Homo sapiens: one gene and its partners. The protein of the gene in region 3 interacts with the protein of the main gene of each other region in a pairwise test. Each region holds a gene or a part of one and is shown on either strand. Other genes may lie near its edges. The genes, in order: EXOC6, LOXL4, MAST1 and RNLS.

Evidence for each region.
Region 1: the proteins of MAST1 (region 3) and EXOC6 interact in a two-hybrid assay, tested with the Homo sapiens proteins (one study listed by BioGRID and IntAct).
Region 2: the proteins of MAST1 (region 3) and LOXL4 interact in a two-hybrid assay, tested with the Homo sapiens proteins (one study listed by BioGRID and IntAct).
Region 4: the proteins of MAST1 (region 3) and RNLS interact in a two-hybrid assay, tested with the Homo sapiens proteins (one study listed by BioGRID and IntAct).

Annotation. Positions count from the first base shown.
Region 1 is NC_000010.11:93,053,685-93,060,232, forward strand, and holds the end of EXOC6 (exocyst complex component 6), read left to right. Parts: intron 1-3,239; coding exon 3,240-3,352; intron 3,353-4,538; coding exon 4,539-4,671; 3' UTR 4,672-5,806; downstream 5,807-6,548. UniProt on the Homo sapiens protein: Component of the exocyst complex involved in the docking of exocytic vesicles with fusion sites on the plasma membrane.
Region 2 is NC_000010.11:98,257,859-98,265,935, reverse strand, and holds part of LOXL4 (lysyl oxidase homolog 4 precursor), read left to right. Parts: intron 1-559; exon of another isoform or gene 560-1,209; intron 1,210-2,884; 5' UTR 2,885-2,916; coding exon 2,917-3,193; intron 3,194-3,722; coding exon 3,723-3,901; intron 3,902-4,808; coding exon 4,809-5,014; intron 5,015-6,506; coding exon 6,507-6,545; intron 6,546-6,707; coding exon 6,708-6,927; intron 6,928-7,768; coding exon of another isoform or gene 7,769-7,771; coding exon 7,772-7,955; intron 7,956-8,077. UniProt on the Homo sapiens protein: Catalyzes the oxidative deamination of lysine and hydroxylysine residues in collagen and elastin, resulting in the formation of covalent cross-linkages, and the stabilization of collagen and elastin fibers.
Region 3 is NC_000019.10:12,841,515-12,849,312, reverse strand, and holds part of MAST1 (microtubule-associated serine/threonine-protein kinase 1), read right to left. Parts: intron 5,785-7,798; coding exon 5,706-5,784; intron 2,024-5,705; coding exon 1,863-2,023; intron 1,702-1,862; coding exon 1,626-1,701; intron 1,466-1,625; coding exon 1,256-1,465; intron 1-1,255. UniProt on the Homo sapiens protein: Microtubule-associated protein essential for correct brain development. Appears to link the dystrophin/utrophin network with microtubule filaments via the syntrophins. Phosphorylation of DMD or UTRN may modulate their affinities for associated proteins.
Region 4 is NC_000010.11:88,572,824-88,580,900, forward strand, and holds part of RNLS (renalase isoform 1 precursor), read right to left. Parts: intron 239-8,077; coding exon 80-238; intron 1-79. UniProt on the Homo sapiens protein: Catalyzes the oxidation of the less abundant 1,2-dihydro-beta-NAD(P) and 1,6-dihydro-beta-NAD(P) to form beta-NAD(P)(+). The enzyme hormone is secreted by the kidney, and circulates in blood and modulates cardiac function and systemic blood pressure.

The DNA of each region.
Region 1 (6,548 bases), on a different chromosome or scaffold from region 3:
AGCTCCCAAGGAAACTTGGAATAATGGTCTGGCATCATCATTTAATCAGTTATTTCCTGAATATCTACTGAGTGGTTAGACTGTGCTAGACACACTTTATGAGCTTGCCTGCCCAGTTTTGAAGTTTGTTTCTATTTACTTGTTCCAGCAGTACAATGCATTTGAAAAATCCTTACACACATGAAAATGATAAATGAGAATATGAGATCAACATGCTTGCTGGCTCCATCTTTGCTCTCTGCCCATGTCCATGTGTAGTCTTTGGGACACAAACACTGAAATGTCTCAGCCATTGGATCTTCAGTCATTGGATTCATAGACTGAGCGGAATGAGCAGGCAGTCACCAGCTTCTATATAAGTTAATGGTTTCTATTTTATTCTATATTAAAGTGATAGTAGCTTCCTCATGTGTTACTGTAGTTTAAATTACTAGGATTCTGTGTGAATAGCTTTTCTTTATAATTTCTTCCATGTTAACATCAAAAGATTACTGCTTTATTCCTATCTTACAATGTAAGCTCCTTGAGGAAAGAGATTTTGTCTTGTTCCAATGCTGTATCTCTGGTACCTAGCACAGTATCTAGCACGTGATAGGTGGGGAGTCAATATATGTTGAATAAATAAATGAATCTTATGTAGATCATTGGCTTTTTTGTCTGCTTTGGCAATTAATTCCTTAACCATTAATTTGCAAATTCGTGCAGATTTCTACAGATACCTGTAAATTAACTGTGTACAATATGTATTTCTATAAATATTTATACAAAGATTAATGTCAATATGAAAGCATATAGATTTGTCTACATATGGGCAGGTAGGTTTAATTTTGTGGTTCCTGTAATTTCTGCGGATTTGCACATAAGAGATTTGCATATGAGTATCTGACCATATGTGAACATTGTAAGCATAGTGTTTCTTTATCCAGGACAGTCTGGTCTTGTGCTGTAAAAGAATCAATTCTGTATTCACAGTTGGAGTTGGTGCGGGTTTTTCATTCATTAAGTCGGCTCCTCCTTTCCCACTTGGGGGTAAATCAGCCTAGAGAAAAAGAGCCTTAAGAGGTTGCTTTCTGCTGACACTGTGCATTGCACATGCACAGTTGTGCAAATACACACATATACCTGAAAGAAGAATCCTTGAAAATGAGGCTTCTGTTGACAACTCTGTGAGGGGTGTTCATTATTGAAATTTATTTTAATATATAAATATATAAACCTTATTTATAACTATAGTATTAACACATATCCATTGTAGAGTATTACAAAAATAAAGAAAATAACAGTTAACCTTAATCCCACCACATAAATGACAATCATTCTTTTTTAAAAATTACTATTTTAGAGGTGAAGTCTCATTATGTTGCCCAGGGTGGACTCTTAACTCCTGGGCTCAAGTGATCCTCCCGCCTCAGTCTCCAGAGTAGCTGGGACTACAGGAACACACCACCATGCCCAGCTTATAACCGGCATCCTTAACGTTTTTGCAAATTTTCTTCCAGTCTTTTTGGATGGGTTTTTATGTAACTTAAGTAGCAACATTTATCATAAACATTATCCCAAGTTATTTAAAATTCTTTGTAAACATTAATTTTAATAACCACATGATAGTCATCATACAGATAGACCTCACTACTTAACCAGTCTCTTAATATTGAGATTTAGGCTATTTTCAGTTTTTGATAACACAAATAACATTTTTGAGATTAATATCTTTGTGCATAAATTTTTTTCTGTTTCTCGAAGTTGCATTCCAAGAAGTAGGATTGCTGAATCAAAGGGAATGGCCACTTTTATAAGGTTCTTAAACACATTGCAGAATCACATTCCGGAGACGTTATACTAATTTACACTCTTACCATCTGAGTGTATGAAAGTAACTTTTCCTCTTTGTGAAAGGAGGGAAAAATGTGGCCAAACAACAGTTAAAAATTACACAGAACTTTAAATAAGTTCCCTTTTCTTTTTCAGACAGTATATTCTTTAACATTGTCTCAGTATAGTTTCTATCCTAGTGTTTCAACTGTTGGTATGGCCCAGAATGGTATCTTGTCCGAAAGAAAATAGAGTGGCTTTCCATAGTTAATATTTTCATTATAGAATTTTCTGCCTGTTGCAAGAAAATCTCTATTAATACCTGTAAATTGGATGGGGAAATAGTCAAGCAAGTTCTTTACCTTCATCAAGAAAAGCTAGTTTCTGGTGACCTTTCTTTATGAGGTTTTAATCACCCCAGAGTTTTATCCCTCTCAGAGTCAGTGGTCGGCTCTTGTATCCCATGAGTAAATGCAAATGTTTCCTCCATTTGAAAGCAAAACCAGTAAGACCCCTTACTTATAAAGTGAGTTAAAACAAAAAGAAAGAATATAAAAACTAAAGGAAGGTAGTAAGTAAAGCATTTAGCTTTCTGAAACAATTCAAATGGGGATAGGAAGTTGGTTTTAAATGGCTTAAAGGGGATTAGGGTTTTAAAGTTGGATAAAGAGTTTGGTGCTTAGGTTTAGGCATGGCATTGCTTTTAAAAGATTACTTCCATATTTGACAATGATTCTAACTGGAGATTATAAAGTAAATAGTCAATTTTAAGACACCACGGGAAACAAGAGGGTTTCTTTTTTGTTGTTGTTTGTTTATACAAAATGGTAGCCTAGAGTTAACAGGCTGAATCCTGAAGCCCTCATTTCATAATACTACAGAGGATCTATCACCAGAGAGAATCTAGCAGAGGTTGTTTAATGCACTTAATTGAGATTATCTGAGCTTTTGGTTTAAATTACTTTGGAAAAAGTCTTAGGTGCAAACAGCGTCCTTGAAAGGTAAACATACTTACCTCTAAGAAAAAAAGGTTCAATTTAAGTTCTTTAAAATTCTTCATACAGGTTAGTAGCACCAACCTTTATTAATTAAATCTGGGTACTGACTAATGCATAAAGATAAAATTTCTATACATCAGTACAAGGGTTAATATATATTATATTAACATTGTTTTCATTATTTTACAATTATTTGAAAACATGAAGTATTTTACTAGAAAACAACCCCTGGCATTTTTAGTAATTTCAAAGTAAAAAGATCTATTTTGATTGTAAAGTACAGTTAATGAAGTTTTAAAAATGAATTTCCGTATTCTGTTCCATCTAAGAAGCAAGCCATATTAAAATGGACCAAGGATAGCATATAATTTAAGTATTAACTGGGTAAATAATCAAAAGTTGATTTAACATTTCCCCCATCTTTCGCAGCTCCTTGACCTGTTTATGGTTTGGGATTGGTCTACTTACCTAGCTGATTATGGGCAGCCAGCTTCTAAGTACCTTCGGGTGAATCCAAACACAGCCCTTACTCTTTTGGAGAAGTGAGTATATTCTGAAACTTTTTTGTATAACATTTTAGCACCTTTTGATTCAGTGATAAACTGAAGAACTAGAGATTTCTGTCAAAAAAGAAAAGTCTAGATGGAGCTTAAAAGCTCACTCTAGTTTAATGACCAAAAAATAAGCTTTTCTTTCTTGCCCTTCAGAGTTGGTGTAGTTTCATAAGCAACTGCTGTTTATATTGATGTGAACAAAACATCTTTCCTTTTGTATCCTGAATTGCAAGCTTAATTGACCTTAGAAATATGTTTACTGGGGATGTGACAATTGGAGCTTTCTTTAAAAAAAAAAGTCTATAACTCAGGAAAGAAGGTATTTTGTCAAATGTGACCAGGAATTGGAATGTTTGCCACCAGTGTTACCTAAATCTTAGCATTATGGACTTGGATTCTTTGCAGGTAGAGAAATATGTGATTTGAAAAAAAAAATACAGTAAAAACTGAGGTAATAGGATTTACTGATGCATCTTGTCCAACTAAACATAAATTTAGGTGTTAACTTTTCCCTCTCATTATGTGACAGACTTTTTCTTTACTCAATCATATTTCATTTAAAATGTCACTATTGGGAGACTCTCTGAATCTGCTGTGATTCTGGGGGCTGCTGGATAAGAAAAATAAAAAAGTATCACTATTAAAATTTTCAATTTTAAATTAAAATTGTTATTATTTTCCTATATTTCAAAATATTTGTGGTGTATTTGATTTGAAAGGACAAGAGGAAGTGTTTAAAATAAATGTAAATTTATTTTACAATGCCATGAAATGCAACTGAGGCAAAAACATCGCTATTTTACATTTTCTAATGTTATTTTCCTTTCACCTTATCTTGCTATGAATATGATTAGCAGAGTCTATACAGGGTATGTATTTTAGCATACTTTGTGGAATAATATTAGAAAATAGTATGATAGTAGTAAACCTAGCATATTTTAGATGTACATACTAATGCAAAAATACCACTTAACATAGAATGTAAAATAAAGCTTCTAATTTTTTGCATGGTTACTATATCTGTATGTTTATTTAGTATCTACTTTCTTTGAACTATATTTTTCAAGCATAGGATTAGTGTGGGATAATTCAGAGCATGCCAAGATATTTTACTTGTGACAGCTTAGCTTTTAATTTTCTTTTACCAAGCTTCTTCATTCACATATGTTTCTAGGATGAAGGATACTAGCAAAAAGAACAATATATTTGCTCAGTTCAGGAAGAATGATCGAGACAAACAGAAGTTGATAGAGACAGTCGTGAAACAGCTGAGAAGTTTGGTGAATGGTATGTCCCAGCACATGTAGACCTCACATGGCTTGCACTCAGTGACACCAAATCCATGATTCAATGTTGATCTTGAGCAAGTATTGGTCATGATACAGTAATTTGTTTACAGAATCCAAAAATACAATAGAGAAGATACATGAGGGCTTAAACAAGAAATAGTAATAAATATCATTTGTATGGATTTTTAAATAATCGAATACTATTTTATATATGGAAAAAAATGACCATTTTTTCACTTTTAGGGGAAAATGCAAAAGTGTAATACATAAATTGTCACAAATTATACATGAAATTGATTACAAATACATTTGAAAAACATATGCCTCTACTCATAAGTATTTTTTTCTATTTAGACTTGAATGATAATCTGTTTTTTGATCAGTATATGGCTTTGGAATTCAATCATGTCTGATATGGTAGTATTTCACTACCATTTTCTGACTTTTAGCTTTTATTTTCACCTCAATGTGATTTAAGCAGACCAAAATTTCTAATTCTGCTAATTCTGAAGGGGAAATAGACAAATCTTAAAAGCTGCCTGAAATCAAACTTGATTTAACTCAGTAAGAATGTGAATTATTTGTTCTACTTGGGTGGTTTAATTTAATCGTTCTGAATATGAACAAAAGGTTTTGGATTTTCTAAAGATGCAGTGTTGTTTCTGTTCATCAGGGTTAATATTTCTAACTATATTGCTTGTAGGTGACCCCATTCTGGATTTGTTTGGTTTGGTTTGGTTCCAGTTAAAAGAGAGGACAGGAACTAAATGGGGCTAACCACTTCAGGTGCAGCTTGTGCGAGGGTAGATGGTTCCTGCACACAGAAGTTACCACAGGGGTCAGGTTACTTTCTTCAAATAGCAGATTTCAGTACTTTATCCTCATTGTGGAAACAAGCCAAACCAAATGAACTCTGGAAAACCTAAAACAAATGTACATTTTCCTTTGTGTATGTTTCCGTGGTCCAAATGGCAATATAAATCCAGTCTTTATTCTCCCTTTGTTGTATTTATGCTGAATCTTCCCTTTGCCTTTTCAGGATTTAGGCCTGTAAGAAACTATGCCTGATTCTGTAAAATAAGTGTAAAGAATTATATGTACATCTCTGGATTTTGTGATGAAATATTAAAAATATTGAGCAAGTTGTTGAAAATGCATTACTATTTTGTCTATTCAGAGCTTACTGATTTAAAACAAGTGCTTCCTGGAGAAAAGGCATATTATTTCCTAGTTACTGGAATGGGAGTGGCACCAAAACAGTATATATACATACACACACACACACACACACATATATATACATATGCGCACTTGTTCTCTCGATCATCTCTTAATCCAAAGTATTTAATGTTTTTAAAAATATTACATGAAAAGCATGGTAGTTCTTCAGGCACGGTGAAATCTGGAGGAGAGGAGCGGTGAACAGCTAGCTCTCTTTGAAGACTGGAATGGGGCTGCCCTTCGCGCCTTACCCAGCCTTCCAGCGTACTTGGGGTGTCTTCCCTGCTTTGGCTGAGACGTCCCGGGATTCAGAGAGATACTGCCTTTGCACTGCCTGGAGGAGACCACTGTGGGACCTCTTTACTCTTACCAATAATATAAACACCCTGCACCCCTCCACACACACCCCAGGTTGCACTGTAGGGACAAGAACGAGTGAGTCCTGAGGCATTTGGAACCCTTGAATGGGACGCACAAAGCCCAAAACGCAACAATGTAGATTGACAAGAGTCGTCGGGCAAACTCGGGGGAGGGAGGGAAGGATGTGCAGGGAAGGATGAATTCGGTCCTTGAGACCGGAAAGGTGCTCGTGGGTATCCGCTTCTGGAGGCTTAGGACGTCTTTATGAAGCCTAGGGCAGTAGTGGAACTGCCATCTTTGGAAGGATACCTGAC
Region 2 (8,077 bases), on a different chromosome or scaffold from region 3:
TGGGAAGGCAGCCCCTGCACAGCCTCAGGGAGTGGAGAGGGGAGCATCTAGGCTCTGCAGTGTGGGTGGAGGGAAAAGGGGCAAATCTAGAGAAGGCTGCAAAGAGGAGTACCAAGGACTTGCAGTTGAGATCGGACGTGGCCTCCATTTCCTTCTTTGTACAGAGAGGAGGTGGGACCAATCTAGACCAACGGTTCTATCGTCGCTGTCACAGTAGCTGTTAATAATAGTTCATTGTTGGCCGATGTAGTGGCTCACGCTGGTAATCCCGTCACTTTGGGAGGCCAAGGCGGGTGGATCACCTGAGGTCAGGAGTTCAAGAACTGATGTGGTGAAACCCTGTCTCTACTAAAAATACAGATAAATTAGCTGGGCATGTTGGCGCATGCCTGTAATCCCAGCTACTTGGGAGGCTAAGGCAAGATAATCACTTGAACCCTGGAGGCGGAGGTTGCAGTGAGTCGAGTTTGTGCCATTGCACTCCAGCCTGGGTGACAAGAGCAAAAATCTGTCTCAAAAATAATAATAATAATAATAATAATAATAATAATAATAATAATAATAGTTCATTGTTACTGAAGGCTTGCTCTTCTAAGGATTTAATGTTTCTTCACTTAATCTTTACAAAAATCCTATGAGGTAGTTACTATTATTATCCCCACTTTACAGAGGGAGACACTGAGGCAGGGAGAAACTAAATCGCTGGCCCAAGATCACTTCCAAATGAACTGGTGGAGGCAGGATTCGAACCCCAGCAGTCTGACCGCCCAGCCTGTGCTCTCAAGCACTGTGCTGCCACCTCCCATCCATGCAACCACAGATATGAATGAGTGCCACCTACACACCTGACACTATTTTGGGAACTGGGGACACAACACATCCCCACTCCCATGGAGCTTCATTCCCAGAACTTGTTTAGTGCACTTTTAGGAGCCCACTCCACCCAGCCCTGCTGGCCAAGGCCGTTGAGAGGGAGTAGGGCAGATGCCATCCATGGAAGTGAGAGTGGCAGGGGCCTGTGAGAGCCTCCCCACTCAAGCGGATGAGCTGCATGATTCCCCAAGAGGAGCCATGGCCGTGGAAGAGGCAGGTCTCATCAGAACGAGCTTTCTTAGCCCATCTTCTCCATCCCCTGTTCCAGGTCGGCCTTAGCTTCCATCGGCAGCAGAGCCTTGGGGTGGAGGAGCTTCAGCTTCGGTGGCTCCAGAGGTCTCTGACAGCTCTAACCAGCTGAGACTCTCTCCTCTATGCCCTTCTCCACCTGCTGGTCCCGGGACCAAGGCTGCTGTGTGAGGGGGAGAGGACCTGCCCCCAGCCTCATCCCCTCTCTAAGGACCCAAAGAACGTCTGATTACAGCCTCCTGGAGACAGGGGCCCTCTCTGTTTACCGCCTGAAACCCTCCCCTGGCCCCTCGCTTCCTACAGGATGAAGGCAAACCCTCTGTGTAGTACACATGGCCCTTGATCATTGGCCCCAGCTCGTCCCTCCATCTCTTTCCCCTCCAAACCCCCACACTGTGGTCTGGGGGTAAGAGAAGGGCACTTCCTGCTCTTGCACAAACTCACCTCTTTCCCTCTTTCCTAATCCTCTTCTCTGTATCTCGAATGCCCCTTTTCTCACCCAGGAGAATCTTATTTGCCCAATAAGGCTCAGGTTAAGTGTCCCTTCTTTGAAAGGCTTCCCTAATTCTTCTTGCTTGAGCTTCATGAAGGTAGGGAGGGTGTTCGATGTCTTAATTTCTGTGTCCCAGCACCTGGCCTGAAGCAAGTATTCCAAAAATGTGTATTGAATCTACATGAATCATACGCCTAGATGGATGTGAGGCTATCACAGGGTATCCAAGCTGCAGGAGGGATCCAGATGATATGTGGTTCCATCTCCTCACTTTAGAAATAAAGAGTCAGGGCCGGGCACAGTGGCTCACACCTGTAATCCCAGCACTTTGGGAGGCCAAGGCGGATGGATCACGAGGTCAGGAGTTCAAGACCAGTGTGGCCAAGATGGTGAAACCCCGTCTCTACTACAGATACAAAAAAATTAGCTGGGCGTGGTGGTGGGCGCCTGTAATCCCAGCTACTCAGGAGGATGAGGCAGAGAATTGCTTAAACCTGGGAGGCGGAGGTTGCAGTGAGCTGAGATTGCAGCACTGCAGTCCAGCCTGGGCGACAGAGAGAGACTCTGTCTCGAAAAAAAAAAAAAAAAGAAAGAAAGAAAGAAAAAAGAAAGAAAGAGTCAGGACCTAGAGAGTTGAAGAGACTTGCCCAAGCCATGCAGCCAATGAGTGGTGGAGTCCTTGATGCCCATCTAATAGCCCTTTCTGCTCCAGCCTTCCATGTGCCTTCTAGGTGAAGGCGGCACTTCACACATTTGATTAGGGTGCTAGGAACATCAGAAGGTGGTGGCAGTGTCCCTGGGGTAGATAGTCTTGACCTGAGGGCACCCTGGGGGCATCCCCGTGACTCAAATGGTGGACCACCTCGTCTGCCTACACATAAGATTTTAGGTGTATAAGAGCTGCTGTTTATTGTGTACTCACCAATGCTAGGACTTTGCTAAGCACTTTCCATACGGTGTTTTATTTAACACTCAACAACACCGTGAGATGGAGATTACTATCCCCATTTTACAGATGAGGAGACTGAGACTCAGTGAGGTTAAGTTTAAACTTCCTCAAGGTCATGGCGAATGTGGTGGATTTGAACCAAATCAGCTAACCTGGCCCAGACTCAATTAATGCCACTGTGTGTGTGTGTGCGCGTGCACACACACACACATTTGAGGGGGGTTTTCTTTCCTTTGTCTTGCCAGGAGCTGCCAAATTGCTGCAGAGGTCTGAGATCTGGGTAGAGGTGGTGATCACTGTCATGTTTACTCATTCCTCAGGTATCTTGGCCTCAGCTGTCCTTGAAGTCACCATGGCGTGGTCCCCACCAGCCACCCTCTTTCTGTTCCTGCTGCTGCTAGGCCAGCCCCCTCCCAGCAGGCCACAGTCACTGGGCACCACTAAGCTCCGGCTGGTGGGCCCAGAGAGCAAGCCAGAGGAGGGCCGCCTGGAGGTGCTGCACCAGGGCCAGTGGGGCACCGTGTGTGATGACAACTTTGCTATCCAGGAGGCCACAGTGGCTTGCCGCCAGCTGGGCTTCGAAGCTGCCTTGACCTGGGCCCACAGTGCCAAGTACGGCCAAGGGGAGGGTGAGTGACTGGTGCCACCTAGTGGGATGGCAAGGAGATGGTAACAGTCTTCTTGGGCTGGGCTCACTGACACCCACCCATCCTTTAATACCCTGCTCATGTGACCTCCTCCACACGGCATTTCCTGAGTGCCTCAGCTGCACATGGCCCCTACTCCCACCCTCCCATTCTCTCTTGTAATAAGGCCACCGCCGTCACCACCACTAAACTCTAAGTTCCTTGAACATAGCAATTGGCACACAGTGGGTGCTTAGAGAATGTTGAATGAAAAAATGGGCAAACAGGTAGGTCTGATTCCTAGAGCTACCCGGCATTTTCCAAAAACAGATTCTCTAAGAGCCAGCACCCAAAGGAGGTAGCAGGCAGGGTTATAAATACTTATTCCCCAGGAGACCCAAACTTCCTCCTCCCTGCCACTTTCTCCCAGGGTTTGGAAGAGGTGACTTGGTAAGTGTGGGGTCCTATGCAGGAGGCAGAGCCTGTGACCTGCCTCTCTGTGCCATCTTTGAGCATCACCTCCACTCCACAGGACCCATCTGGCTGGACAATGTGCGCTGTGTGGGCACAGAGAGCTCCTTGGACCAGTGCGGGTCTAATGGCTGGGGAGTCAGTGACTGCAGTCACTCAGAAGACGTAGGGGTGATATGCCACCCCCGGCGCCATCGTGGCTACCTTTCTGAAACTGTCTCCAATGCCCTTGGGCCCCAGGTGAGGAGGCTGTTCAGGCTCTGGTCTGAGCCAAGGGCTGGGTCAGAGAACAGAGAGCCTCCCAGAAGACGGGCCTAGAGGATAAGCGAGGGGAAAGGGTGCAGTCTGCACTGAGCATCGTCCCCAGGCCGCCGACTCCTGAGTGTGCCCTGCAGCAGGTGCATAAATAGAGGGCCCCAGCCTGAGGCAAGGCAGGCCAGAGGACCAGAGCTGACCCCACTGGGAATCGCAGAAGCTGCTCCCGTAAGGGAGACAGCATTGGGTAAGGGGCTCCCTCATCCATGAGGCCTGGCCACAATTGCTGCCTCTTCCCAGCACAAACAACCCTGAGCTAAAAACAGCCCAAGCCAAACAACAGGAGCGGGCAGGGCAGGGCTCTGCTGCCAGGCAGCCTCCAGCCTCAGGACAGCTGGCCATGGCCACTGAATGCAGCGTGTTGTGATGGGGACTCTGTACTGGTCTAAGTCATCCCAGGGCTAGGGTTGGGGGTTCTTGTGGGCCATAGGATCCTGCTGTGGTCTCAAGCAGCTGGTCTATGCCCATCTCAGCTCTCTCAGGGTGGTACAGAGAAGGCCCTTCCATGCCCAGCAAAAGCCTCCCAAACTCCAAGGGCTCCCATCCTGATCCCAGCGGGGGCCAGATCTGCCTAGTTCTCTCCAATTTGACAAATTCGAGGAACTGAGGGAAAGGGCTTAGACAAGCTGAGGTTCTGCCTTGCACTTACTCTGTGGCCTTTGATAATGCCTCCCCTTCTCTGGGCCTCAGTTTCCTGGCCTGTTCAATGACCGGGCTGGGTGGGATGGTCTCGAAAAGCTCCAAGCCCCAGCCTTTCTGCATGAAGATCTGCAGCAGGCTCCACTGGAGGAGCAGGAGCCCCGAGGCCCACAGGTGACTGTGCACCCCGCAGGGCCGGCGGCTGGAGGAGGTGCGGCTCAAGCCCATCCTTGCCAGTGCCAAGCAGCATAGCCCAGTGACCGAGGGAGCCGTGGAGGTGAAGTATGAGGGCCACTGGCGGCAGGTGTGTGACCAGGGCTGGACCATGAACAACAGCAGGGTGGTGTGCGGGATGCTGGGCTTCCCCAGCGAGGTGCCTGTCGACAGCCACTACTACAGGTAGGAGGGCGGCTGGCGTAGGCCCCACAGGAGGCAGGGTTGTGGGGCAGGGACTGAGTGTGTGTTCATGTGCGTGCATGTGATGTAGGGTGTGTGCATGAGTCTGAGTGTGGACTCATGTGAGGGGCAAGTAAGTATGCACACAGGCGAGTGTGTGATGTGTGTGGCATGTGGGACCTCGCAGAGTTCAGTGAGTACTGACTGGCAGTGGTGTTGTCTGTGGCAGGACATCCAGCAGGTGTTGGGATTGGGGGAGAGAAAACAGGCCCTACTGAGGAATGTGCCCAGATTTCTTGCTTCACGGGTGCCTCAGAATAATAAACAGGAAAGTGAATAAGGAGGACCTTCAGGATCCTGGGAAATACCTAGAAACAGTCAGAAAACAAACACTGCACTCTCGAATTATGTAAACAGAATTAACTAGGTACAGAACGCCCCCCCACCCCCCGCCCCCGGTGAAAACAGTTGAACATAAAACCGCGTGTCCTTGGTTAAAACACTAGACTTTCCTGCAGATACTTGCAGTGACACCCACGTGTAGAGTTTAGACAAACTGTTCTGGCCTCAGCTCAGCCAGTGACTGGCGTTAGGGCTTTGGGGAGGGCCTCTGAGCCTCCATCCTCAATTCCACTGCGAATATCCCAACGCTTCCCTCCTGAATTTCCTCAGCTCTGATCAAGCCAGGCTGTGACTGGGTTGTGTGTAAGTGAGGCGTGGGGTGGGGCACCTGGAGAGAGGAGACATAAAAATATTCTGTCAGAAACAAGGCGGAACTGTCACAACTGATTGCATCAACCAGTAAACGACAGCCACAGTCATGGTTCTGCCAGATCCGTGTCAGGGAGGACTTGTGTGTTTCCCATCAAGTGAGAAGTCTCCCGTAGTACGTCTGAGTCATCTGCCACCCCAATCAGTTTGATCCTGCTTCCCTAAAGGGTTAGAAGGCCCTTGTTGCAGTGACTTAGAGGAACCCCGTTCTGAGGAAACAGGGGTGCTGGTCAGCCTCTGGCTCCATCCTTGGGGATCCTGGGATGCAGCCTGACTCCCCCTGCCTGGTAATTGCACACCTGGGTCTCGCTGACTTGCCTGCCACCCATGAGGAGGGCAGGCCTGATGGTAGCCTGGGTGTCTCTGGGCGGGCCGCCCCCACCAGCAAGGCCTTCACCTCCCACCTGTCCCCAGAGGGCCCCTTCTCTTGGGCCCTCCCTAAATGCTCCCCTTCCTCTGGACTTCGGAGAGGGCAAGCCTGATCCACCTGCCCCCACTCTAGGACTGGCCGAGGGACCTTGCTTGCCTTCCTTGTAAAATGGTTATTTGTGAGGTGGCCACCCCGTCAGGGCTGCTGTGAAGCTCAGCATTGAAATCAGATTAGTGAATAAGTTTACAAAATGTAAAGTCCTGTGCAAACTTAAGGACAACTATGAGGAACCAGGTGGCAGGGGGTGGGACTTCCACACCCCTTCCACCTCCTATCTGTTTTCTCCCATAACAGGAAAGTCTGGGATCTGAAGATGAGGGACCCTAAGTCTAGGTGAGGAGCAGCACCCTAGAGGGAGGAGGCAAAGGGGTGTGGCATGAAGGGCCTCTATCCCATCCCCTACCCTCCCCTTCCCTCCTTTCTACCTTGGCCTCCCTTAGTCCTGAAGCTCTTCCCTCAGCCCTTCCTCCACCCTCAGTCTCCCTTGTCCTCTAGGCTGAAGAGCCTGACGAATAAGAACTCCTTCTGGATCCACCAGGTCACCTGCCTGGGGACAGAGCCCCACATGGCCAACTGCCAGGTGCAGGTGGCTCCAGCCCGGGGCAAGCTGCGGCCAGCCTGCCCAGGTGGCATGCACGCTGTGGTCAGCTGTGTGGCAGGGCCTCACTTCCGCCCACCGAAGACAAAGCCACAACGCAAAGGGTCCTGGGCAGAGGTGAGCCCTGGGCATCCTGCACTCACACCACAGCTTGGAGGCACGGGCGGGACACTGCCTGGTGGGGGGTGCGGGGAGGTCCAGGACACGCAGGAGAGAGGAACCAGACTGGGAGGAGGAGAGTGAATCACAGAACTGTAGAACCTTGGAATGTATTTAAAAGGGATCATTTATAGCCCTACCATAAATGGAAAGCTGACATCACCCGCCTTGAATAGAAGGTGACCGTAAAAACAGTAATTAAATCCTAACTACATTCCACTGAGGGCTGGTACTGATCCTGAGCCTGCTCCTGAGCCTGCTCCTTTGTTTTAAAGAGGAGATGAGCAAGTGCTTATGAGGTGGTAGAGACGCCTCAGTGCCAAACTGAGATGCCCTCATGAGGTGGTACAGATGCCGTGAGGTGGTACAGATGCCTCAGCGCCACACTGAGATGGCCTCGTGAGGTGGTACAGACACCTTAGTGCCACACTGAGATGGCCTCGTGAGGTGGTACAGATACCTTAGTGCCACACTGAGATAGCCTCGTGAGGTGGTACAGACACCTTAGTGCCACACTGAGATGGCCTTGTGAGGTGGTACAGATGCCTTAGCGCCACACTTGAGACGGCATCCTTGATGAGGCTGTGGGGGTGATTGGTCATTGAAGAAATGGAGATCAAGAAAAACAGCTTATTCAGGGTGACAGCTATGGGAAGTCAGAAGCAGGACTGGAACTCCCCATCCTTGGCTCTGGCCACCGCCATGGAACTTGAAGGAGCCCCGTTGGGGATCCCGCTGTGGGGGCTCAGCCCCTGCTGGTGCCTCCTCCTCAGCCGTCCCTGAAGCAGGTTTCTCCCAGCAGGAGCCGAGGGTGCGCCTGCGCTCCGGGGCCCAGGTGGGCGAGGGCCGGGTGGAAGTGCTCATGAACCGCCAGTGGGGCACGGTCTGTGACCACAGGTGGAACCTCATCTCTGCCAGTGTCGTGTGTCGTCAGCTGGGCTTTGGCTCTGCTCGGGAGGCCCTCTTTGGGGCCCGGCTGGGCCAAGGTGAGTGAGACAGCCTGGGAGGGGTTAGAAGGCCTGGATATGCCACTGGTCCATGTCTTGAAGGCCCTGGGGTGACAGGGCCAGGACAGAAAGTTATCCCCCTCTGTGAAGGGGAAGCCACA
Region 3 (7,798 bases):
TCAAGCAATCCTCCCATCTCAGCCTCCTAAGTAGCTAGCTGGGACTACAGGTGCATGCCACTGCAAAGGGACATTCAAGCATCAATTTACCCAACATTTATTGAGTACCTACTGTGTGCTGGGTATTGTTCCAAACAGCAGGGACACAGCAGTGGACAGAACAGACAACTCCACCCCCCCACCCTCACCAACTATGGGGCTGACATTGGAGAAGGATAGACATGAAATAAAATAAGCAAAAATACACAGTATGATGGATGGTGCTGAGTGTCAAGGAGAAACTGAGGAGAAAGTGGGTGATAAATGTGAGTAGAGTTTAATATTTTATTTTATTTCATTTATTTATTTATTTTTGAGACAGAGTTTCACTCTTGTTGCTCAGACTGGAGTGCAATGGTGTGATCTCGGCTCACCGCAACCTCCGACTCCCAGGTTCAAGCGATTCTCCCGCCTCTGCCTCCCAAGTAGTTGGGATTACAGGCGCCCACCACCACGCCCAGCTAATTTTTGTATTTTTAGTAGAGACGGGGTTTCGCCATGTTGGCCAGGCTGGTCTCGAACTCCTGACCTCAGGTGATCCACTTGCCTCAGCCTCCCAGAGTGCTGGGATTACAGGCCTGAGCCACCGCACCCGGCTAAGTTTAATATTTTATTTTATTTTATTTTATTTACTATTATTATTTTTTGAGACGGAGTCTCGCTCTGTCGCCCAGGCTGGAGTACAGCGGCGCAATCTCGGCTCACTGCAAGCTCCGCCTCCCGGGTTTACGCCATTCTCCTGCCTCAGCCTCCCGAGTAGCTGGGACTACAGGCGTCCGCCACCACGCCCGGCTAATTTTGTGTGTGTGTGTGTTTTTAGTAGAGACGGGGTGTCACCGTGTTAGCCAGGATGGTCTCGATCTCTTGACCTCGTGATCCGCCCCCCTCGGCCTCCCAAAGTGCTGGGATTACAGGCCTGAGCCACCGAGCCCGGCCGAGTTTAATATTTTAAATGACTGGGGACCGCCTAAGAAGCCACCTGAAAAGGTGACATTTGAGTAAAGACCTAAGGGAAATGAGCGAGGTGAAATTCCTGCCTCTTCAGTCGGTCAGACCTAGGGAAGGGACCACTTCCACCCCTGAGTCCTCAGCTCCACGCCAGTGCCTGGAACGTGGTAGGAGCTCCCTGAATGTATGTGGGGTGAAGAAAGGGGTGCATTGGGCACAATCTGGCGGTGCTGAGCCTGAGATCAGCCCGGCCTCCGCGTGCACTCACGTCTTGAAGGAGCTTCTCCAGGTTCTCCTGCAATTCATAGAAGTAGACCGTGGTGATGAGGCCGTCACGGGACTTGGTCAGGCAGTCCCGGGCCAGCTCGATGATCTGGTGGTGGATGAAGCTGAGCACGCCATCGGCCAGAGGCAGAACGCTGTCGGGTTCGTAGGCGCGGGTAAAGTCGCGCAGCTTCTCCTCCATCTGCGCAGTGGCCTGCGGGAGGGACGGAGGAGGGGCGCGGGGCTGTGCCCGAAGGCTGCGGCCGCCAGGAGCCTGCGCTGCGCACCGAGGCCGCCAGGGGGCGCGCGGGGATAAGGCGAGCGAGAGTGCAGGCCGCCTGGTCACCCCGTGACCGCCTCGGGTCCCACCTCACCTTCGGGAACCTCTCCTTGTAGACGTGATTCATCATCACGATCTCGTTGTCGTAGGAGGAGGGGGAGCGCCCGGGGCTGCGGGGAGAGAAGCCCATTTTGTCGAGTCCTCTGCCTCCAAGCCCGCAGAGAGCCCCCGCCCCAAGATGTAACCCTTTTATTCGCGGGGACAGGGGTCTCTCTAAGCACAAGTCCTAAGACCACTAGCTTGGTACGAAGGAGGAGGGATGCCTGCCCACCTGAGGCTCCGTGAGCGGGGCCGCACGGCTGGGGAGCGACGGCCACCATCCTCGTCTGTGATGCTCTCGGTGCTCCCGAAGTGTTTGGAGAGGAAGTGGAGCTCGTCCACCGTGGGCTGGTAGGGCAGCTGGTGAAGGCGCTCCTGGGAGGAGCAGGAGGACTGGGGACAGGGGCAGGGCCGGGGTCAGAGCCACCATGGGCCCCCCAACAGCTCAGGACCCTGAGCTGGGACTCCCAAAGCCGATGGGGTCACTGGGCAAGGCCAGGATCAGGACCTGATTTACGATCCTTGGATCCTAGGATCTTGGCTGGGACTCTTGGCCACAGACAGGTGGACAGGGACAGACAGGGGTGGAGACAGTGAGTCTGTTAAAGCTTGGGTCAAGTCATGAGCCTCCTCTGTTCAGAACCCTTGGTGGCTCCCACCTTACTCAGGGTGAACACCCAAGTCCTTCCCCAGTTATACAAGGTCCTGCCTCATCCTGCCCTGGGTCCCTGCCGTGGATTTTTCTCACTCTCCTGCTTACTTCCTCTGCTCCAGCTACAGTGGCCTTCTTTTTTTTTTTTTTTTTTTTTTTTGAGATGGAGTTTCGTTCTTGTTGCCTAGTTTGGAGTGTGATCTCAGCTCACTGCAACCTCCGCCTCCCGCGTTCAAGCGATTCTCCTGACTCAGCCTCCTAAGTAGCTGGGATTACAGGTGCCTGTCACCACGCCTGGCTAATTTTTTGTATTTTTAGTAGAGACAGTGTTTTACCATGTTGGCCAGGCTGGTCTTGAACTCCTGACATCAGGTGATCCACCTGCCTCTGCCTCCCAAAGTGCTGAGATTACAGGCACAAGCCACCGCACCCAGCCTAGTGGCCTCCTTGATGGTCCTTGGACAAGCCAGGCAAGCTCCTTCCTCAGGGCCTTTGCATTAGCTATTCTTTCTGCTTGGAACACATCTACTATGGATCCCTCCTTCTCATCCTTCAAATTTTTGCTTCAATGTCACCCCTCGGGAAGACCTCCTCTGAATACACACCCATTATTCCCTATCCCTACTCTATCTTGTTTCCTCTTGCTTTATTATCATTATTATTTTAGAGAAGGGTCTCCACTGAATATGGTGACTCACACCTGTAATCTCAGCACTTTGGGAGGCGAAGGCGGGAGGATCATTTGAGCCCAGGAGTTTGAGACCAGCCTGGGCAACATAGTGAAACTGTGTCTCTATTTATTAAAATTATTTAAAGTTAAAAAGAGAGAGAGACACGGTCTCCTTGTGTCACCCAGGCTAGAGGGATGTAGTACAATCATGGCTCACGGAAGCCTTGAACTCCTGGGCTAAAGTAATCTTCCCCCCTCTGCCTTCTGTGTAGCTGGGACTACACCATGCTTGGCTAATTCTTTTTTGCAGAGACAGGGTCTCTCTATGTTGCCCAGGCTGGCTTCCAACTCCTGGCTTCAAGCAATACTCCCACTTTGGCCTCTCAAAGTTCTGGGACTGAGGGCAGGGCTCGGTGGCTCACGCCTGTAATCCCAGCACTTTGGGAGGCTGAGGCGGGCAGAAAAACTGAGGTCAGGAGTTCTAGACCAGCCTGGCCAACAGGGTGAAACCCCGTCTCTACTAAAAATATAAAAAAATTAGCCAGGCATGGTGGTGGGCACCTGTAATCCCAGCTACTCGGGAGGCTGAGGCAGGAGAATTGCTTGAACCCAGGAGATGGAGGTTGCAGTGAGCCGGCACGGTGCCATTGCACTCCAGGCCTGGGCGACAGAGTGAGACTCCATCTCAAAAAAAAAAAAAAAAAAAAATTGCTGGGTCACAGGCATGAGCCACTATGCCTGGCTCTCCTCTTGCTTTATTTTATTTTTTTTTATTTCGAGACAGGGTGTTTCTCTCTCCCCCAGGCTGGAGTGCAGTGGCTCGACCTCCACTCACTGCAACCCCCACCTCCTGGGCTCGAGCAATCTTTCCATCTCAGCCTCCTGAGTAGCTGGGACTTCAGGCACAAGCCATCACACCTGGCTAATTTTTTTTTTTTTTTTTTTTTTTGTAGAAACAGGGTTTCATCACGTTGCTCAGGTTGGTCTCAAACTCCTGGGCTCAAGCAATCCTCCCACCTCAACCTCCCGTAGTGTTGGGAATACAGGTGTGAGCCACCATGCCTGGTCATATAGCTTTCACCCAGGCTGGAGTGCAGTGGTGCAGTCTTGGCTCACTGCAACCTCCAGTTCTCAGGTTCAAGCAATTCTCCCTGCCTCAGCCTCCTGAGTAGCTGGGATTACAGGCATCCATGACCACGCCTGGCTCATTTTTGTATTTTTACTAGAGACAGGGTTTCACCATGTTGGCCAGGCTGGTCTCGAACTCCTGACCTCAAATGATCCACCCGCTTCAGCCTCCCAAAATGCTAGGATTATAGGCATGAGCCACCGCGCCCGGCCAGAATGATATTTTTAAACATCACATTGCTCACTCCTCTGGTTAAAATTCCCCACCCCATCCATCTCTTTTATTTTTTTAATTAGTGTGCATTATCTATAGCCTACATAATCACAATTTCAAATGGTTCAAACTGAAATTTTAGTACAATTTAATATAAAGAAATAAAACCATTCCATGGCTTCCCCACTGGATTTAGAATAAAATCTCCCTTGCTGCCCTGGCTGACAAGGTTCCAGCCTGATCAAGGTCACTGCCTGCATCATCTCTATTCCTCCCCCGCATCCCAAATTTTCAGCCCCACAAAGCTACTTTCAACTTTTCAAATGCTGCAAGTTCTGTGGCCTCTAGAGGTTTGCACATGCTCTTCCCCTTCCTGGAACACTCTTCTCCCTTCTCTTCCATCTGCCAAACTCCTGCTGGTCTGTTGTCTTGGTTTCAATGTCACCTCCTCCAGGAAGCCTTCCTTGACAACCCCCCAATCTGAGTCACATGCCTCTCCCCTATCACCTCACCTTGTGCTACTTGCATCAAAGTTCTGACCATTCTATTTTGTGAATGCCTTCTTACTGGCTTGTCTTCCCCCATGAGGGCTGCGTGAATATTTACACTCTGGCCCAGCTTGCAGAACCCGCCTACCACATGACAATCTCATGACAAATGTCTGCTGAACATCATGCCAATGGCTGGATAAGGGAACTATGGGCATGGATAGAAAAGGGAGCAGATGAAGGGACTTTGGGTGTTCCAAGGGGTGAGCAAGTGGGCTCTGGGTGAAAGCTGTGGCCTGGCCCAGCCCAGCTGCTGATATCAGAGTAAATGGCTTAACTCACAGAGCCTTATGTCACCAGCTGTAAATGAGTGAGTCAGAAATGAGTAGGAAGGACCCTCCCAGAAATGTGTTGAGGGCAGAGCATTGGGCTCTGAGTGGGGCGGACCCATAACTCTTTAATAGATGGACAAGTGAACACCTTTGAAGAATGGGGAAACCCAAACTGTCTTTTTTTGCTTTTTTCTTTTGAGACAGGGTCTCACTCTGTCATCCAGACTGGAATGCTGCAGTGCGATCTCAGCTCAACTGTAGCCTATACCTCCCAGACTCCAGCGATCCTCCCGTCTCAGCCTCCCAAATAGTGGGGACCACAGGTGTGCACCACCACGCCCAGATAATTTTTAATTTTTTGTAGGGACAAGGGTCTCCCTATGTTGCCCAGACTGGTCTTGAACTCCTAGGCTCAAGCAATCCTTCTGTCTTGGCCTCCCAAAGTACTGGGATTACAGGCTTGAGTCACTGAGCCTGGCCCTAAACTGTCATCAAGCCCAGCCTGGACTGCTGGCCTGGGTGTGGGTCTTCAGGCTGGAGGGCCCCTGAATTCCTTACCCACCGGCCCACCCACCTACTTTCCACACTCACCGAGACGGTGGAACTGGGCGTGTTGGTGCCATAGCCAGATGAAGGGAGCGAGGCCAGAGACCACCGGCGTCCGTCCGCCCTGGAACCCAGCCAAGGTGCTCAGAGGCCACAAGGCCCCAGCGGTCCCCCAACTCCTCAGGGTGTGGGTGAAGCCACTGGCCAGGGCCAGGGTGGGGGTTGGGGGAATATATCTGCACTCTAAGATTCCTCAAGGCCCTCAGAATCAAGGGGATAAAGAGGGACTCTTCCAGGCAGGCACCGGGAATTGGAGGGAGGATCCGTCTCCACTCTCCTCCCCACGGTCCCCTCTCTTATCATTCAGAGTGGACACCGAGAACTGGAAAAGCCCCCACCCAGTGAAGCCTTTCCAGAGAGATTCTAGAAATTTCCCCCAAGTGAACACTCTCCATGAGAAAGCTCTGAGGGAGACCCTTGGATCTTCTCAGAGAAAAAAGACCCGTCCCACCCCCCAACATGTTCTGACATAGAATATTGTGTCCTTATGCTCTCGTGCACACAGACACAGTCACTGTTGCAGCCAAATCCATTAATGTTGGTGTGACTATCAGGTCAGGCTCACATACTGGCAGTGCACACATTTACACTTCACACACACGAAGACACACACTCACACATGACTCCTCAACACAGACACCCACACGTATTGACTATCCCATCCATGGACCCAAATATCACACTCTCACACACTAATGCACAATCACGCGTGCAAGACCAGACATGCACTCACCTATAGACACATGTGCTTCCACTCAGTACTCACACTCGGACACACAGACTCACCCAAACATACTCCACACTTCCACATTCACACAGATGCACGTTCCAGACACCCACGCTCACTACCACACATTGAAACTTGCACACAGCGACACACTCATTCACACTCGCACGCAGATGCACACACACAGGGACACACATCGGCGCGTGCTCATGTGAGTGCACAACACACATTAGCATGTGCATGTGTAAGCGTGTGGCTGTGAGACAGTAAACTGGACGGGCGCGGTGGCTCATGCCTGTAATCCTAGCATTTTGGGAGGCCGAGGCGGGTGGATCACCTGAGGTCAGAAGTTCGAGACCAGCATGACCAACCTGGTGAAACCCCATCTCTACTAAAAATACAAAAATTAGCCGGGCGTGGTGGCAGGCGCCTGTAATCCCAGCTACTTGGGAAGCTGAGGCAGGAGAATCGCTTGAACCCAGAAGGCGGAAATTGCAGTGAGCCGAGATCCCGCCATTGCACTCCAGCCTGGGCAACAGAGCGAGACTCTGTCTCAAGAAAAGAAAAAAAAAAGAGAGAGAGAGAGAGAGACAGTAAACACTGTGACTCTGTGTTTACTATCTCACAGCCACACACTCACACACGCTTACACCCACACACAGATTGCACGCTCACCTGGAGACATACCTGACTTGCTCCTCTCACATATTCACAGACACTTACAATCCTACAGACACATGTTCACACGTTCACATTCGCAGACTCGTGCCATTGCATAGGCACGTAATCCCTCACACAGTGACAATCACACACACACACCAGCACACTTTGCACAGTTACAAGGACACACACACACCCCATTTATTGGACTCCTCCCTTCCTTCTTCCTCCCAGCAGTCCCCTCGCTCAGTCCTCCCCGCTTGCGGATAAACATGTGAGACCCTATCCCAGAGCCTTGTCCTGGCTCTCTATTGCCCTCAGCTAAATTCCATGGTCAATAGGCGGTTCCCCCACTTTCCCAAGGGAGCTGTCTGTCTTCACAGTCTCCTTTGACTCTCACAACACAGCCTTCATCAGCCTTTGCACTGATCCCCATTCTCTGGCCTGCCTGCCCTATTCGACTCAGAGGGTAGAGACAGGACGTCATTGACCCCATACGCCCAGCTCCTAAGAACATAGCAGGTGTTTAGACACCATTTTTAGAATGAATAGAGTTCAAAGAAAAAGAGACAGGCCCAAACTCCCAGAAACGTTTCTCCAGAAAACATCAGAGAAACCTCTCTGCCTCCCCCAGTTTCACCAAAGGCCCATAGAAAATTCATTTAAGGACACCCCAGAAACCCTAAGAGAC
Region 4 (8,077 bases), on a different chromosome or scaffold from region 3:
AAGAGAGTTAAACCAAATTCATGCTTTGTCAAAAGAAATCCCATTCCCTGAGGCAGGTAAATGGCAAAAGCAGACTCACAGGTGGTGATGTCACCTTGAAGCTGCAGAATCTCAGGAACTGGCATTGTGAGAACAATAAGATCAAACTGCTCAGGGGAGCCTGTTTGTTTGGATACTTCCCATTTGTCATCTCTTAGGTTGATCTGTGTCACACGATGTCTGAAGTAGACTTCTGCACCTGTTCCAAAAGCAAAATCATGTCCCCATTATCAGAATTGCATATATGAATAAAGGGGATGTGAGTAGTCACAAACTGAATCCATTCAAGTGAACAAAATGGCCAAGACTGTCTTCTACTGTCCTCCAGCTCTCTTCCTTTACTTTCTTTCTAATTTAGTGGGAATTCATCCCTACCTGGCATCCTTGGACTTCCCTATCAGTGCCTGCTCTGAATCAAAAACTACTCCTACAATTAGTGATAAAAATAAAAATAATAACTATAGCTACTTTTCATTAAGCAGCTACTATATGCCAGCTGCTTGGTACACATTATACTAATTTATCTCACAGACAAGGAAATAGATTGAGAAATAGCATGCCATGATTTAAAACTATAACCATCTGACTCTAAAGCTCATCATTTTTGCAGAACAAGTATACACTTCAGTAAACATGTGTGTTAGCAATGAAATAAGAAGAGCAATATTCTCTATTAAAGGAATTAATATTTCCCATTAAAGGACCTGAAAAAGGTTCTCTGTAAGGGAAATGCAAGTTCTCATCAATAGATCAATTGTCTTCATTAAGAAGAATCAGAATTTAGAAACATACTCTAGAGTACCCTCCCATAACATTTTCCTTCTTAGCACTTAACACAAGGATATTTTAATAATTATTTCTTTAATATTGTCTTCCCTTTTAATCTGTAAGGCCCATGAGCTACAAATTATACCTGTTTTATTTCTATGTATAGCATATAGTATACATAGCATAGAATTTATTAGTTAAGTATTTATTTAAAATAATGAATTATGAGGCCAGGCACGGTGGCTCACACCTGTAATCCCAGCACTTTGGGAGGCTGAAGTGGGTGGATCACTTGAGGTCAGGAGTTTGAGACCAGCCTGGCCAACATGGTGAAACCCCATCTCTACTAAAAATACAAAAACTAGCTGGGTATGGTAGTGCATGCCTGCAATCCCAGCTACTAAGCAGGCTAAGACACGAGAATCGCTTGAACTCGGGAGGCAGAGGTTGCAGTGAGCTGAAATCGCACCACTACCCTCCAGCCTAGGCAACATAACAAATAAAAAGAATGAATTATGAACCATAAACTGAAAGAAAGTACAATTGGGTCATTAAGTCTCCTTAGTAAACTAGTACTCACCTTCCAGTTTTCAAAAAATTTTGATTTACAAGCAAATCTACTTTTATTCAGCTTTGTGTATAGAAAAAGAAAGAAATGAAGATGGAATGAGGGAGGAAAAAAGCACACTGAAAGATCCTGTTCATCTTTACCTGGGAAATCTCACGTTCCTAGTCACTAAAAATCCAGCTAAAGTTCATCCCAAAGCTTCCTTTCTGTAGCCACTCCAGCTCAGTGTGATCCTTCCTCTCTATGATATTCTTCAACCATCACTGCCTTTAGTACTAATTTTGACATTGATTCAAAATATCTGCATGCTTTAGTTGTATCTTATCTATGTAATAATACTCAAGGCTCCTTCATGTCGGGTCTTCAGATCTCATACACTTTCATCTCTTTCATTGACCCTTAAATAATGCTACACCCTAGTAAGCACTCCAGTTTTTAAAAAATCAAATGTAAATGTTAGAAGAAACATAGTTCTAGCTAGCCCAAGAGATCAATCTCTGTTCAAGACAGTGTGCATCATTCTGTTCAAAGATTAGAGCAAGGGGCTTGTAAACAGTACTCCATCTTGCCTGAGGGCTTTTCTAAGGCCCCTGCTTGGGGAAGGTGCAAATAATTTGCACTTTCAACACATATCCACCATCTCCTTTATTCCAACAAGGGCAGCTCTGCTTCACTCTGTTTTTATTTATTTAGGATGCCTCACCCTACTTGCCTCACTTAGTCCATGGCCCTGTCCCAGACCTCAGCTAAGTTAACTGATTCTACGTTTTCTCATAATATTCCTTTGAAGAGAACAATATGCTGTTATTGTTGGTGGTATGAGTGTGTGTTTAAGGGGACTTAAGTTCACAGTCCTAGAAAATTCTTCATGCCCCAGATGAACGCCTTGAAAATGTATCCCAATGGCCACAAGGTGTTCTGCAAAGTATATATATATATATATATATATATATATATATATACACACACACACACACACACATATTATATATATATACTATATATATATGTGTGTGTATATATATATATATATATACACATATATATACACCAAGGTGTATATGTATATGTGTGTGTGTGTGTGTATATATATATATGTCAGTGGTTCTCTAAGTATGAACCCCAGACCAGCAGCACCTATGTACTAGAAAATGCACATTCCTGGGCCCCAACCCGACCATACTGAATAAGAAACTCTGGGAATTGAGCCTCGCAATCCATGTTTAACAAGCTCCCTTAGTCTTGTCATGATGCGCGCTAAAGTATGAGAACCACTGGGGTAGGTGGACACGCCCAAATCAAACACCACTGGCAAAACCACCCAAAAAGCAGCATTTATCAAGAGGTAGGAGAAATGGTATAGCCTCTCTTATTAACCAGAAAGGCTTCCTTTCCAACTGCTTGGAGCAAAGTTTTTGGGAAAGTGGCATTTCCTTGTGAAAGTAATTAATAACTTTCACAAAGACTATGTGTTTAAATCTATAAGCTCTGAAAAACCCAATTTTAAAATGGATAAATAAATAGTCTCAAGAGTTATGTCTGAGCTTAGTAAATTTGACCATGTCCCTCTCTTGCATAAAACCCTTCAATGGCTTCCCATCGCACTTAGAGTATAAAATCTTTAACATTGCTTACAAAGCCCTGTATAACCTGGCCCTGCCTTAGTCTTGAGCATCATCTTTTACCATTTTCTCCCTCACTCACTACCGTCCAGTCATAATGATCTTTTATTCCTTGAATGCACTAACCTCCTCCTACTGCTTCAAAACAGTTCCAATTTGATGTGTCCACTGCATTGAACTCTCATCATTCAGCTCTCAGCCTAATTCCCTCTTGCCCACCTTTCAGGTACCCATGAAAATATCAGTTCCTCAGGGATGCTTTCCCTAACACATCTCCCCCATCACTCCTCTAAAACCTACTGGGCTAGGTCCTTTTATTGTAAGTTCTCTCATAATGCTCTCACTCTTTCTTCTTAACATTTATCATGCATCTTTTCTTTGTATGTATAATTAGTTTAATGTCTTTTCTTCCCACTATACTCTACATTAACAGAGGCCAGGATCATGTCTCTTATTGACTTTTGTTTCCCCAGCACATAATATTTAATTAGAATAAAATGATCTTCAGATAGCTATAAAGATATCAGAAGTCTAAGAAGGTTTAAACATTTTACAAAGGCAAATGTGTTTCTGTTATATATTTATTCAATTTTATCCCTGGCCTTCCTCCATTTTAAGGAGAAAATCCAAGTTTATGTTTCTCCTATGATTTCCCACAAATAGGTTTTAGTGAGCAGCAGTCAGAACTGCTCAGGTGGGACCTGAAGTGATGTGAACCATCTCTAACTGACTACACAGCTTGAAGTAAATAGAAGAATGCTTAACCTGGTTTTCATGCCATCCTCTAGCTTCTCTAAAAAGGACATCGTTACGGATGAGTGCCAGGATCACCTGCTGGGAGAAATTTTGAGACAGAACCACCCAGACTCACTTCCCCTCTATCAATTTTAGAAAGAAAATAGGCACAAAAGTAAAAAGAGAGAGAATAATAAAAGTAAATATTACAATACAGAAGCCATCCTAGCTAATGGCATCTGCCACCTAAACCATTTTTTTCTAATAAATTGATCTTGTCAATTTTGACAGGTTACTTTGCAAATGTTGACTTTCTGGATCGCTAGCCAATGTCCTTTTTAGGTAGATGATAAAATAAAAACAAATAAATGCAGCAACAGCCCTCCCTATTGGTAGGACAAGCTAAATAAAAGCTGCTCACTCTGTGTCCTGGAAGCTAAATTCATCTTTTTTGAATAATTTAGTAACATGGGACCTTATTCAAAAGCAAAAGGACCTGGCCCATCATTTTCCATGTCATAGGCAGGAACCATCAGGTGACCAATTTCCCAGGTTGCATAAAGAACTAAGGTGGTATTACTCTTCAATATCCACTTCCCCCTATGTCAGGAATTAACTGATGAAAGAGGGAAACTAGGGGCACAGGGAACTATGAGGTTGTTCTATTGAACCATGTGTCTACTGACACGTAGCACCAGGTGGGATGGGTACAATCTTCATACTATAGGAAAATAATCAATAAGGAAAGAGAAGGCTCTACAAAATAGATGTTAAATTGGAGAGTATGAGCACCTCTCATTGCCCTCCATGAGAGACTTAATAGAAAAAAACAACATGATTAATTGCAAAGGCACTTCAGTTCTGTTACCAACTAGCCAAGCCACCTTAGACAAAGTACCTGAGTCTCATTCTTCGCATTAACAAATAGGGATGATGATTAACTCCCTTGAAAATTTACTGTGAGAATTAGAAACTACATACGTAAAGTACCTCAGGTAGTATTAGATAAATAGTCAGCACTTAATAACTGATAGCTAGAATCACTTTTGCTATTGTCAATTCTCACCCCAGCATAATGACAACTAGTATAAAAAAAGAACAAAAGAAAATCATGTTTCACTCACTCAAGAAGATTGTATTAATGGAGAAGGCAGGCAGTCAGTGAAATTGATGCCAATAAATACAGCTTTCTCTGCAATGAGGTTAATGTGAACACATCGGACAATAAATTAAAATAGAACATAAGGTCAAGAAGAAAGCATCTATTTCCTTTACCTTTTACTATTTGTTCTGGGAAATTGGTCTAGTTAAATATTGGCTTTAAAGGTTTGAACCTATTCTAAAGCATGCCTGATTAGGCATATCCCAGACAAATAATTGCCCTGGGAGTCTGGTCCCAATCTGAATGACCACTGGTTGGTCCATCAGATTGTGGGGTTTTAAACTCAACTAGATTCCAAAATATAGAGTATTTTTGAAAATAGTTGGCAATTTGATTTCTTAAAGTAAGGAATATATGAAGGTCAGCTTCATTCAAGTACAATATTTTTTAAACTAACATTTTTCAAGAGATTACTATGTGACTGGCTTACTACTTGCTTGAATTTGAGTGCATTATATCTTTCATTCCTCACAACACTTTGTAGCAAGAACTTCCATTACAATATTCTGTAGTAAGTACCCTCATTTTTGCATTTCATTACGCTCATTTTTTTCAATGAAAGAACTGAGGTACAGATTTTAAACTTTCCTAATATTACATGAACAGAAAGGGATGGTAGGACATTAACTGGAATCCAGGTCATTCTGATTTCAGGGACTGTCTTAGCTTATAGTGTGGAAAAACCAAAATGTTTTTGTGGACCATTTATAGAATAGAAAGGTTAAAGGGACTTAAAGAATGTTTAAAAGGGATATAATTATAAAATTAAAAATATTATAGATAGGGTCCAACAAATCCTATAGATAATAGATCGGGGTAGAGGAGAATCTCGAAGTATTACAAGAATAACATTAAATAGCATTAAAATAAACAAAGAAAAATTTATATAAACTCAAGTTAAATAGACCATGAACTTGATATAAAATAAATTTTTAACATTTATATCACTCTACCTACTATGTAGGAGGTACTATTAGTTTCTGAGTGAGGTACAAGGAATTAAAAATAATCTCTTCTCTGAAAAGCTTAAAAAGCAAAATTGGAAGTTAAAACGTATGTATTCCCCCAAACACATAACAAAATAAGGAGATAGATGCAATGTATTCAAAGATGTTTCTCTGCCAGGACATCAACTCCATGAAGGCAAGGACATTGGTTCTTGTATCATTAGTACCTAGAACAATGTTTGGCATTATGGTAAGTATTCAATGAATGTTTATTGAACAAAAGGATATGTGTATGTATGTATATATGCATGTGTAGGGGTGAAATTTCAGTAAAAATCAACTGACAAAAGGCATACTAATATGAGAAAAAGCATACAAATTTATTTAATCATAGTTTTGCATGACACTGAAACCTTCAGACTGAAGACCCAAAGATACAGGAGTCCATTTTTATGCTTAGATTCAACAAAGTATGGACAGCTCTGCAGCAATATGATTGGACAAAGGGTTATATCTATGGCTAACAAACTGGTAAAACCCACCAAGGCCTGTCTGTCTAGATTCTTCTTGTCCTCTCTGTGCAGCATTCTTTCTTTATGGTTATAGGTCATGACCCTCTCTGGAACTGTTGTGAGCTACAATCAAACACGGTAGGTCAGATAATTTCTTTATGGCCAGTTTTTACAAAGGAAGGCAGGGGAAAGCTAGAGTGATAGTTTTAGGTTTTATGGCTGGTTTGGGGGGAAAAGGGGTTCTTATTTCTACGACCTGCCTTGGGAAAAGAGATTCTATTTTCTAGGGCTAGCCTCAGGGATGAATGCAAGGCCAGAGATAGGAGGGCAGGAGAAGGTCAGAGAGAGCTACTTCTGAGGGCTCCATTTTGGGATATCATTTTCTAAGCTCCTGCACATGCATGCATGCACGCATATCAGTTAGTAAGTACCTGATGATTTCAATAGGTATACTCATCCAACCTGGGTCAGGGGAAAATCATGGTGGAAATGAGATTTTTTAAAGTGATATGGCCACACTATATGAAGCTGATAGTAACATTCTACAAAACGTCCAATAGTGTCACCATCTGTGATGGTCAATTTTATGTGTCAACTTGACTTGGCCATAGGATGCCTACATATTTGGTCAAACACTATTCTGGGTGTTTCTATGAGCACGTTTTTAGAAGAGATTAACATTTATTATCAGTAGATCAAGTAATGCAGATTGCCCTCCCTAATGTGGGTAGGCCTCATCCAATCAGTTGAAGGCCTACATAGGACAAACGCATTGATCCTCCTTCACATAAAGGAGAATTCTTCCTGCCTGAAAGCCTTTGAACTGGCTCATCAGCTTTTTTCCAGCCTTCAGAGTAGAACTGAAACATTGGCTCTTCCTGAGTCTTGAGCCTGCCAGCCTTTGGACTAGAAGTATACCACCAGCTTTCCTGGGTGTCTACCTTGCTGGATCACCCTGCAGATCTTGGGACTTACCAACCAACATAATCATGTGAGCCAATTCCTTATAATAAATCTCTCTCTTTATCCATACTCACATATACACATGCATGCACACATACATACACACACATACCCTATTGGTTCTGTTTCTCTGGAGTAGTCTAACATACCATCTATATACTGAATCTCGAATGGAGAAATGGTCTAAGCCAGAATGGTATTTATTATGTTCTCATGTTGTTTATTCAATCTTACTGACCTCTCTGATGCCCAGTGTCAAGGATTCTTGGGGTTCTCAATAAGTAATATTTGATGATAAAGATCAAAACAGTAATTATGCTGGAAATGGCTTATAAAAAAATTCTTAGCCTATATCCTTTCTCAGTTATCTCAACTTGGGTACTTAACTGAATTATGATTTATCAAGAAGCTTCATTCTCCTTTAAAAATAATCATCAATTATCCAAGAAAAATTCTATTTTCTTTTTTAAAAGGTCCATTTTCAAAACGCTCATAAAATATATAAGGAACAAATGAAAATCCTAATAGAAAATGGGCAAAGGTTATGAATAAGACATTCACAGAAGAAAACTGCAAAGAGCTGGCTAATAAAACAAAAACAATGCATAAACTCATTTGTAATTAAAGAAATGCAAATTAAAACCACGAAGAGATCCAATTTTTAACCTATTACACTGGCAAAAATTAAAAATTTCCATTATACCCAAATGTGGGGAAAGAAACATTCTCATCACTATTGGTGAGATGTTCTTTAAGATTAA